2 separate regions of the Homo sapiens genome follow, and region 1 is linked to region 2. Evidence: fine-mapped expression QTL. A gene starts in region 2. The other region holds a variant in brackets. All regions are shown on one strand. Distances are from middle to middle.

Region 1 (5,171 bases), 100 kb before region 2:
AAGAGGGATATTATATAGTGATAAAGGATCAGTCCAACAGTAAAATATCACAATCCTAAATATATATGCACTTAACACTGGAGCTCCCAAATTTATAAAATGATTACTACTAGACCTAATAAATGCAATAGATGCTAATACAATAATAGTGGAGGACTTCAATATTCCACTGATACCACTAGACAGGTCATCAAGACAGAAAGTCAACAACAACAACAAAAAACAATGCACCTAAACAATGCAATGAACTTAAACTATATCCTAGAACAAACAGACTTAACAGATATTTACAGAACATTCTACCCAACAACTGCAGAATATACATTCTTTTCATTAGCCCATGGAACATTCTCCAAGGTAAACCAAATGATAGGCCACAAAACAAGTCTCAACAAATTTAAGAAAAGCAAAATGATATCAAGTATTCTCTCAGACCACAGTGGAATAAAACTAGAAATTAACTCCAAAAGGAACCCTCAAAACTATATAAATACATGGAAATTGAATAATCTACTCTGGAATCATCTTTGGATCAATAATGAAATCAAGATGAAAATTTAAAAATTCTTCGAACTGAATGAAACTAGTGACACAATTTATCATACCCTCTAGGATACAGCAAAAGTGGTGCTAAAAGGAAAGTTAATAGCCTTAAATGCCTACATAAACAAGTCTGAAAGAGCACAAATAGACACTCTAAGGTCACACCTCAAGGAACTAGAGAAACAAGAACAAACTAAACCCAAACCCAGCAGAAGAAAAGAAATAACAAAGATCAGAACAGAATTAAATGAAATTGAAGTAAATAAATAAAAAACAATACAAAAGACAAATGAAACAAAAAGCTTGTTCTTTAAAAAGATAAAATTATTAGACCATTAGTGAGATTAACCAAGAAAAGAAGATAGAAGATCCAAATAAGCTCAATTAGAAATGAAATGAGAGATTTTACAACTTATACCACAGAAATACAAAAGATCATTTAGGGCTACTATGAACACTTTTATGTGCACAAACTAGAGAATCTAGAGGAGATGGAAAATTCCTGGAGATATACAACCCTCCTGATTAAGCTAGGAAAAAAAACAGAAACTCTGAAGAGACTAATAACAAGTAGTGAGATTGAAACAGTAATTAAAAAAATGCCAACAAAAAGAAGTCCAAGACCAGATGGATTCACAGCTGAATTCTATCAGGCATTAAAAAAGGATTGGTACCCATCTTAATGAAACTGTTTCAAACATAAAGAAATAGGGAATCTTCCCTAAATCATTCTGTGAAGTCAGTATCACCCTAATACTAAAAGCAGGAAAGGACATAACAAAAAAAGAAAACTACAGAGCAATATCCATGATGAACACAGATGCAAAAATCCACATATTCTATGAAGTCAGTATCATCCTAATACTAAAACCAGGAAAGGACATAACAAAAAAAGAAAACTACAGACCAATATCCATGATGATGCCGGGTGCAGTGGCTCACACCTGCAATCCCAGCACTTTGGGAGGCCAAGGTGGGCAGATCACGAGGTCAAGAGTTCGAGACCAGCCTGGCCAACATGGTGAAACCCCATCACTACTAAGAATACAAAAATTAGCTGGGAGTGGCCAGGCGCGGTGGCTTACGCCTGTAATCCCAGCACTTTAGGAGGCTGGGGTGGGCAGATCTTGAGGTCAGGAGATGAAGACCATCCTGGCTAACACAGTGAAACCCTGTCTCTATTAAAAATGCAAAAAATTAGCCAGGCGTGCTGGTGGGCGCCTGTAGTCCCAGCTACTTGGGAGGCTGAGGCAGGAGAATGGTGTGAACCCGGGAGGCAGAGCTGGCAGTGAGCTGAGATCGTGCCACTGCACTCTAGCCTGGGCAACAGAGCAAGACTCCATCTTAAAAAAAAAAAATTAGCTAGGCATGGTGGCATGTGCCTGTAATCCCAGCTACTCAGGAGGCTGAGGCAGGAGAATCACTTGAACCCGACAGGTGGAGGTTGCAGTGAGCTGAGATCATGCCACTG[C/T]GCTCCAGCCTGGGTGACAGAGCAAGACTCCGTATCAAAAAAAAAAAAAAAAAAAAAAAAAAAAAAAAAATATATATATATATATATATATATATATATATATATATATATATGTCCATGATGAACATAGATGCAAAAATCCACAACAAAATATTAGCTAACTGAATCCAACACCATATCAAAAAGATAATACACCATGATCAAGTGGGTTTCATACCAGGGATGCAGGGATGGTTTAACCTACTCAAGTTGATAAATATGATACATCACACAAACAGAATTGAAAACAATAATCATATCATCATCTCAAAAAATGCAGAAAAATCATTTGACAAAATCCAGCATCCCTTTATAATGAAAACCCTCGGCAAAATCGGCACAGATGGGACATACCTCAAGGTAACCAAAACCATCTATGACAAACTCATAGCCAACATTATACTGAAAGGGGAAAAATTGAAAGCATTTTCCAAGAGAACTTGTACAAAACGAGGATGCCCACTTTCACCACTGCTATTCAACATTGTACTGGAAGTCCTAGTCAGAGCAGTCAGACGAGAGAAAGAAATAAAGGGCATCCAAATGGGTGAAGAGGAAGTCAAACTATTGCTGTTTGCTGATGATATGATCCTATGCCTAGAAAACCTTAAAGACTCATCCACAAAGCTCCTAGATCTGATAAATGAATTCAGTAAAGTTTCAGGATACAAAATCAATGTACACAAATCAGTACCATTGCTACACACCAACAATGACCAAGCTTGGTATCAATTCAAGAACCCAGCCCCTTTTATAACAGCTGCAAGAAAAATAAAATACTTGGGAATATACCTAACCAAGGAGATGAACAATCGCTACAGGAAAAACTACAAATGCTGCTGAAGGAAATCATAGACAACACACACAAATGGAAACACATTTCATGCCCATGGATGGGTAGAATCAGTATTGTGGAAATGATCATACTGCCAAAAGCAATCTACAAATTCAATGCAATTCCCATCAAAATACCATCATCATTCTTCACAGAACTGGAAAAAACATTCCTAAAATTCATAAGGAACAAAAAAAAGATCCCACATAGCCAAAGCAAGACTATGCAAAAGAACAAATCTGGAGGCATCACATTACTTGACTTCAAACTATACTACAAGGCTATCATCACCAAAACAGCATGGTACTGGTATAAAAATAGGCACATAGACCAATGGAACAGAATAGAGAACCCAGGAAGAAAGCCAAAAATTTACAGCCACTGATCTTCGACAATGCAAACAAAAACATAAAGTGGGGAAAGGACACCCTATTTAACAAATGGTGCTGGAATAATTGGCAAGTGGCATGTAGAAGAATGAAACTTCAACTCAAGATGGGTCAAAGACCTAAACCTAAGACCTGAAACCACAAAAATTCTAGAAGATAACATCAGAAAAACTCTTGTAGACATTGGGTTAGACAAGAGTTCATGACCAAGAACCCAAAAGCAAATGCAACAAACACAAAGATAAATAGATGGGACCTAGTTAAATTAAAAAGCTTCTGCATAGCAAAAGAAATAAGCAGCAGAGTAAACAGACAACCCACAGAGTGGAAGAAAATATTTGCAAACTGTGCATCTGACAAAGGACTAATATCCAGAATCTACAAGGAACTCAATCGAATCAGCAAGAAAAAAACAAATAATCCCATTAAAAAGTCGGCTAAGGACATGAATAGACAATTCTCAAAAGAAGATACACAAATGGTCAACAAACATATGAAGAAATGCTCAACATCACTAATGATCAGGGAAATGCAAATCAAAACAACAGTATGATACTACCTACTCCTGCAAGAATGGCCATAATTTAAAAATATGACATAAGTTAAAAATATGACCAACAGATGTTGGTGTGGATGTGGTAAAAAGGGAACACTTTTACACTGTAAACTAGTACAACAACTATGGAAAGCAGTACAGAGATTTCTTAAACAACTAAAAGTAGAACTACCATTTGATGCAGTAATCCCACTACTGGAGGAAAAGAAGTCATTATATGTAAAGGACACTTGCACACGCATGTTTATAGCAACAAAATTCACAATTGCAAAAATATGGAACCAGCCTAAATGCTCACCAACCAACTAGTGGATAAAGAAAATTATATCGATCTATCTATATATATAGAGAGACTATTACATGGTGTGTATATATATATAATATAATATATTATATATATATGCACACACCTCAGCCACCTCCCATTCTTCCCCCATATATATACCATGTATATTTTTATATATATATATATTTACATGGTGTGTGTATATATATATATGATATATTTACATGGTGTGTACACATATATATGTAAATATATATATTTTTTATATATATATAATAAATATATATATGTATATATATACACACCATGTAATACTACTCAGCCATAAAAAGGAATAAAATAATGGCATTTGTAGCAACCTGCATGGAGTTGGAGACCATTATTCTAAGTGAAGTAACTCAGGAAAAGAAAAACAAACATTGTATGTTCTCATTATATGTGGGAGCTAAGCTATGAGGACGCAAAGGCATAATAATAATACGATGGACGTTGAGGACTTGGGGGAAGGGTGGGAGGTGGGTGAGGGAAAAAAGATACATCATATACTGCTTGGGTGATGGGTGCACCAAAATCTCAGAAATCACCACTAAAGAACTTTTCCCTGTAACTAAACACCACATGTTCCCCCCAAACTATTGAAATTTAAAAAAAAATGCTAAAACCCCACAAATTCACAATAAACTTAAAACCAAATGCTTTTCCTAATGTTCATATACATAGGGGTCTTGGGTTATCACAGGGACTTGGAATTTTCTTCAACAACAATTTGCTAAAGCCTTACTATATTAAAAACATGTGGATTTTGGAGTCAGAAATTGCAGAGGCCAAGTCCCCGATCTACTCTTCACTGTGACTTGGAATTTATTGACTGTTCTTTTATCTTCAGTTTCCTCATTTTCAAATGCTGTAATAACAGTACCCATTTCCCAATGTTGTTGTGAAAATTACATGAAGAAAACGCAAGTGAAGCTCTGAGTAAAAGGCCTGGCACACAGTTGGGAAGTGCTCAATTAAGTGTAAATAGCAACTATTATTATTAATAAGGTTAAGTT
Region 2 (5,171 bases):
ACTTAAAACAGGTGAATTTTATGGTATGTAAATTATACCTTATAAAGCAGTTTGAAAAGAAAGCAGATGTGGGGAGTGTATTAGTCTGTTTTCATGCTGCTGATAAAGACATTCCCAAGACTGGGTAATTTATAAAGAAAAAAGAGGTTTAATGGACTCACAGTTTCACATGGCTGGGGAGGCCTCACGATCATGGAGGAAGAGCAAGGGAAGTCTTATGTGGCGGCAGGCAAGAGAGAGCTTGTGCAGGGGGAGCTCCCCTTTATAAAACCATCAGATCTTGTGAGGCTTATTCACTATCACGAGAACAGCACAGGAAAGACCTGCCCCCATGATTCAATTACCTTCCACTGGGTCCCTCCCGCAACACACGGGAATTGTGGGAGCTACAATCCAAGATGAGATTTGGGTGGGGATACAGCCAAACCATATCAAGGAAAGTGGGAAGTGTAAATTAGCTGCCTGGGTCCCAGAAGTGAATCATTAAACTTGAACACTGAATTTTCCTGTATCCTGAAAACTCCAAAGTATCTTAATTCCAGATGACTAGCGGTTGCTTTTAGCCATATTTTAATACATGGAAGCACTTCTGCATTCCCTCTTTTCCCCAGGCCTGGACCTCAATCCCCAGGTGTCTGCAACTCTTACTTGATATACACACAATGGATAATCAATAATGATTCAGCTAAGGTAAGGACAAAGCCTTTGCCACTTTTTACCTTTATTCTTTTTAGCCAGAGCAAATAGTGATATATTAATAGGAATACTCTTAAAAAATTGCTTTAAATGCCAGACTACCTCCTTCATATGCACCACTTAAATTTCTTTTCTTACCAAATTCCCTATTCAAATCCTTTCTTTAGGATTTACAGGATTCAGATAAATATACAGTGATCTCCACTACTGTACCCCACTATTGCCCCAGCTGAAGACCTGTAAACTATTCATCAGTACAGCATGTATGTGATTTATGAGCACGCTCATATGTATTAGTTCCCTACAGTTTCCATAACAAATTATCAAAACTCGGTAGCTTAAAACAATAGCAACTTATTCTTTCATAATTCTGGAGGCCAGGAATCCAAAATCAGTCTCATGGGGAAGAAAGCATGGTGTTGGCAGGGCTCCCTCCCTCCCTCTGGAGGCTCTGCAAGAGAATCAGTTCCTTGCCTCTTCTAGCTCTGCTGGTTGCCAGGCATTTGGTGACTTGTGGCCACATCACTCCAATATCTGCCTCTGTGGTCACATTGCCTTCTCTTCGGCCTATATCAAATCTGCTTCTCTCTCTCTCTTAGGACCTTTGCGTTTGCATTTAGGACCCACCTAGATAATTCACGATAATCTCTCCATTTCAAGCTACTTAATCACGTATGCAAAGGCACTTTTCCCTTATAAGGTAACATTTACAGGTTTCAGGGATTAGGACCTGACATATTTGAGTGGCCACTGCTCAGCCTACCATATAATTTGGGGCCATCTAGCTGGGGGACGGGTGGATCACAAGAGGCCCTGTTTAATAAATGGTGGAGGTCTAAAGTGGCTCACTCATAACATACTAGATAAAACTAAGTCCTCATTGTAAATGCACAACAACAGTAAGGGCTTTGCATACATACAAATAAATTGCTGTCCTCAATTTGTTTTGGGAGTATAATATTAACTCTATGGCATGGAAACCATTTCACCCACAACACAAGTAAGATAACCGCACTAAGATTAAAAGCAATGAGCGCAGTACAGAGATAGGAGGACCACATCTCTCTCAGCACTCCTGCACCCTTACCTGATGAGCTTCCGCACAGAGAAACAGTCCTACCTAGCATGTCTCTGGGATATGTGGAAGCCCTGGTCCTTTCCCCACACGCCCCCGCCATACCCGGCCACAACGCCTTAATCTCCTGCTGAGAGAAGCAGCAAGAACTGGTTGCCAGTCAAAAAACCTGGGCAACAGCCGACCTCACTTCTACTTTCCCCTGACGTTGGAGTTCAGCATGAGGCACAAACAAAACCTGGAGCAGCCTGAGTGGGGCCTGGAGCAGAGTGCTGTGGAAAAGGATGGAGACTTTCCAGAACTCATTGTGTTGCTGATTGATGCTGATAATGAGGGAAAGCTCTGACCCCCACATGTGGTTTAAAGACAGGGCTCAAGCTGAAAGGGCCCTTGCGCCGGCATTTAACACCATTCCGTCTTGGATGCGAGGCTGTCCTCTCTACCACCAAGTCTTCCCCATCTCCTCCCCCTGTTCGCGGCAGCGCGGTAGACACAGAGTCAGCAGTCACGTTGGGGCAGGTTACTCGGTGATTCTCTTCCCCACAAATCAAATCAGTTTGCGCAGGCCCCTGTGTTCTTCAAGGTCCAGGTTTCAGCGCCACCGTCCCCAGGGGTCTTGCAATCCCCTAAAACAACAGCAGCTCATTCCAGTAAAGAAACAATTTATTGGGCATCTTCCATGTGCAGAACAAACACGAGGCACCGGAAGATTCCAGAAATGAACACGAGTCGCTCCGGGTCCTCAGAAGAACCCCACTCCCACCCCACCATCCTCGTCTCCCGGGCCGCGCCCCGCTTGTACCTGCAACCAACACCTAATCCTAAGACACCGGCCACATCTCCGCGGGGCGCCGGCGGGCGCAGCGGCCCCACCTACGTCGACCTGGCGGCTGGGACGGGGCGGCTCCCCACTCTTCGCCCCTAGGCCCCGCGGAGGCTGCGGGGCGGCTCCTCCTCCTCGGCTGCGGCGCCGGAAGCTGCCCGCGCCCGTCACTCCTCGCGGCTGTGGCGCTCGGGGCGCTGCCCAGTCCGCGCGAGCCGCGTGGGTGACGGTTAGGACGCTCTGCGAGGCTTCGTAGTTGGGGGAGGGGAGGAGGGGGGTGCTCGGCAGCTGCCCGGCGGGGACCCCTCCCGCGCCTGCGACTCCGCCCGCCGGACGCCGTCGCTGGGGCATCCGAGCGTCGAAGTCCCCACCACCGCCCGGGCGCCCTAAGGAGTGGGGGTGTACCCAGCCCGGAGTCAAATCCTGGAGCCCTGCCCCAGAAACTACCCTGGGTTCGGACCTGCACCCGGCGCCCTCTGCCGCTTCTCCCACAGCCTCCTAACTGGTCTCCGGCCCTACTCTTGCCCCCACCCGAGCGCCTCGGGCCACTCTCGTAGCTGTCCCCACCGTGGTCTTCCCAGATAACTCACTGACCCGCACCAGTCTGAGCTCTTACCTGCCAAAGAGTCAAGCCCAATCTGGAGTTGCCCGCCGGGCCTCCTACTCTGACACCCCCACCCGGCCCCACCTCACCCCCCCCTCCCATTCCCACTCCTGGCATTCCCATTTGACCATTTCAAGTTAACAGAATTCACATTTTGCAGCTCTGTTTTCTCTGTCCCCGAATGTTCAAGTTCAAACGTGTTCTCGGCATAGCTGACCCTTCTGCCTCTGGAGACTTGTTCCCTCCGCTGTGCTACAGTTACCCTCTGTCATTATCTCTAATATAGAATTTATCAGATTTTGCTGCCCAAATTATCGATCAAATGGAACGCATCCAGAAAGGCCAGTGTCTGATAGATGCAGCCTGAGGCATTTAATTCTGCTAGCAATCACATTGTGCAGACACCTACAGCAAATAACTTTTTATGTATAAGTTGATTAGAAATATTAGTAAGTCTTACATTAAATAATGTAGCTACAAATTTTAATAAAAATAGATTAAATGCCATTAAAGATTGTTTATCATATCTTTGTAGTTAATCCATTTATTGGCTTATAGAGATCTAGGATTAGCTATAGAATCGAGCATTTTTAACAGGAAGTGAAACCATAAGTATTACATAGAAAGGTAAATAATTTAGGTCTTGTGGTTGGACAAAAAGCAATTTCTAATTTTTTCTTTTTTCTATCAAAACATGAGTGTTCAATGACATAAAAATTTTCCATACCTAATACATGGTTTCCATTGGTGTCTCATTTTGTGCTTGTACCCTGGACACACACAAAAAGGTTTTTTTCTTTTCAACGTCTTTAATTAAAAGGTGTGTTAATTAGTGTAGCATGAAATTATCTACACCCACATATATGTACGAAAAGTTATGTGCCCCTGATTTTACTATAAAATTCATCACATTTTGAAGTGTCCTGCGGTTTTACAACATTTTTTAAATATTGTATTAAAAACAGCTTCTTAGCTTTTTAAATAAAGAATTAAAAGATCAAGAAAGGGATCCAAAGTCCTTTTCCATTCATTCATTCATTCCATCCATATTTATAGGGCACCTACAACATGCTATGTGTAGGTTGTGACAATAAAGCTGGGGCCCTCTCCCTCTCCCTCTCCCCCTCCCCCTCCCCCTCCTTTTCCCTCTCCAAGGTCTCCCTCTCCCTCTCTTTCCACGGTCTCCCTCTGATGCCCAGCCGAAGCTGGACTGTACTGCTGCCATGTCGGCTCTCTGCAACCTCCCTGCCTGATTCTCCTGCCTCAGCCTGCGGAGTGCCTGCCATTGCAGGCGCGCGCCGCCACGCCTGACTGGTTTTCGTATTTTTCTGGTGGAGACGGGGTTTCGCTGTGCTGGCCGGGCTGGTCTCCAGCTCCTAACCGCGAGTGATCCGCCAGCCTCGGCCTCCGGAGGTGCCGGGATTGCAGACGGTGTCTGGTTCACTCAGTGCTCAATGGTGCCCAGGCTGGAGTGCAGTGGCGTGATCTCGGCTCGCTACAACCTCCACCTCCCAGCCGCCTGCCTTGGCCTCCCAAAGTGCGGAGAGTGCTGCCTCTGCCCGGCCGCCACCCCGTCTGGGAAGTGAGGAGCGTCTCTGCCTGGCCGCCTATCTTCTGGGATGTGAGGAGCCCCTCTGCCTGGCTGCCCAGTCTGGAAAGTGAGGAGTGCCTCTTCCCGGCCGCCATCCCATCTAGGAAGCGAGGAGCGTCTCTGCCCGGCCGCTCATCGTCTGAGATGTGGGGAGCGCCTTTGCCCCGCCGCCCCGTCTGCGGTGTGAGGAGCGCCTCTGCCCGGCCGCGACCCCGTCTGGGAGGTGAGGAGCATCTCTGCCCAGCTGCCCCGTCTGAGAAGTGAGGAGACCCTCTGCCTGGCAACTGTCCCGTCTGAGAAGTGAGGAGCCCCTCCGCCTGGCAGCCGCCCCATCTGAGAAGTGAGGAGCCCCTCCGCCCGGCAGCCACCCCGTCTGGGAAGT

Direction of the effects. Alleles are on the strand shown, and positions count from the first base shown. SD is a standard deviation of normalised expression in the study named.
With allele C in place of T in region 1, the expression in lung of the gene that starts at base 2,750 in region 2 is lower (moderate effect, 0.58 SD a copy in GTEx).

The links. PIP is the estimated chance that this variant, and not a neighbour inherited with it, causes the effect.
Region 1: its variant is the best candidate, but not a certain one, in a credible set for the expression of CCDC158 in lung (GTEx, PIP 0.80).

What each region holds. Positions count from the first base shown.
Region 1 is chr4:76,317,383-76,322,553 of GRCh38, forward strand. All of the region lies in intron 24 of CCDC158 (coiled-coil domain containing 158), which reads right to left. Among named protein-coding and RNA genes, the nearest start is that of STBD1, 13 kb to the left of the region's middle. The variant C/T (reference allele first, on the strand shown) is at 2,015.
Region 2 is chr4:76,418,392-76,423,562 of GRCh38, forward strand. It overlaps CCDC158 (coiled-coil domain containing 158), which reads right to left and starts at 2,750. Exons shown (of 25, transcript NM_001394954.1): 1 at 2,574-2,750.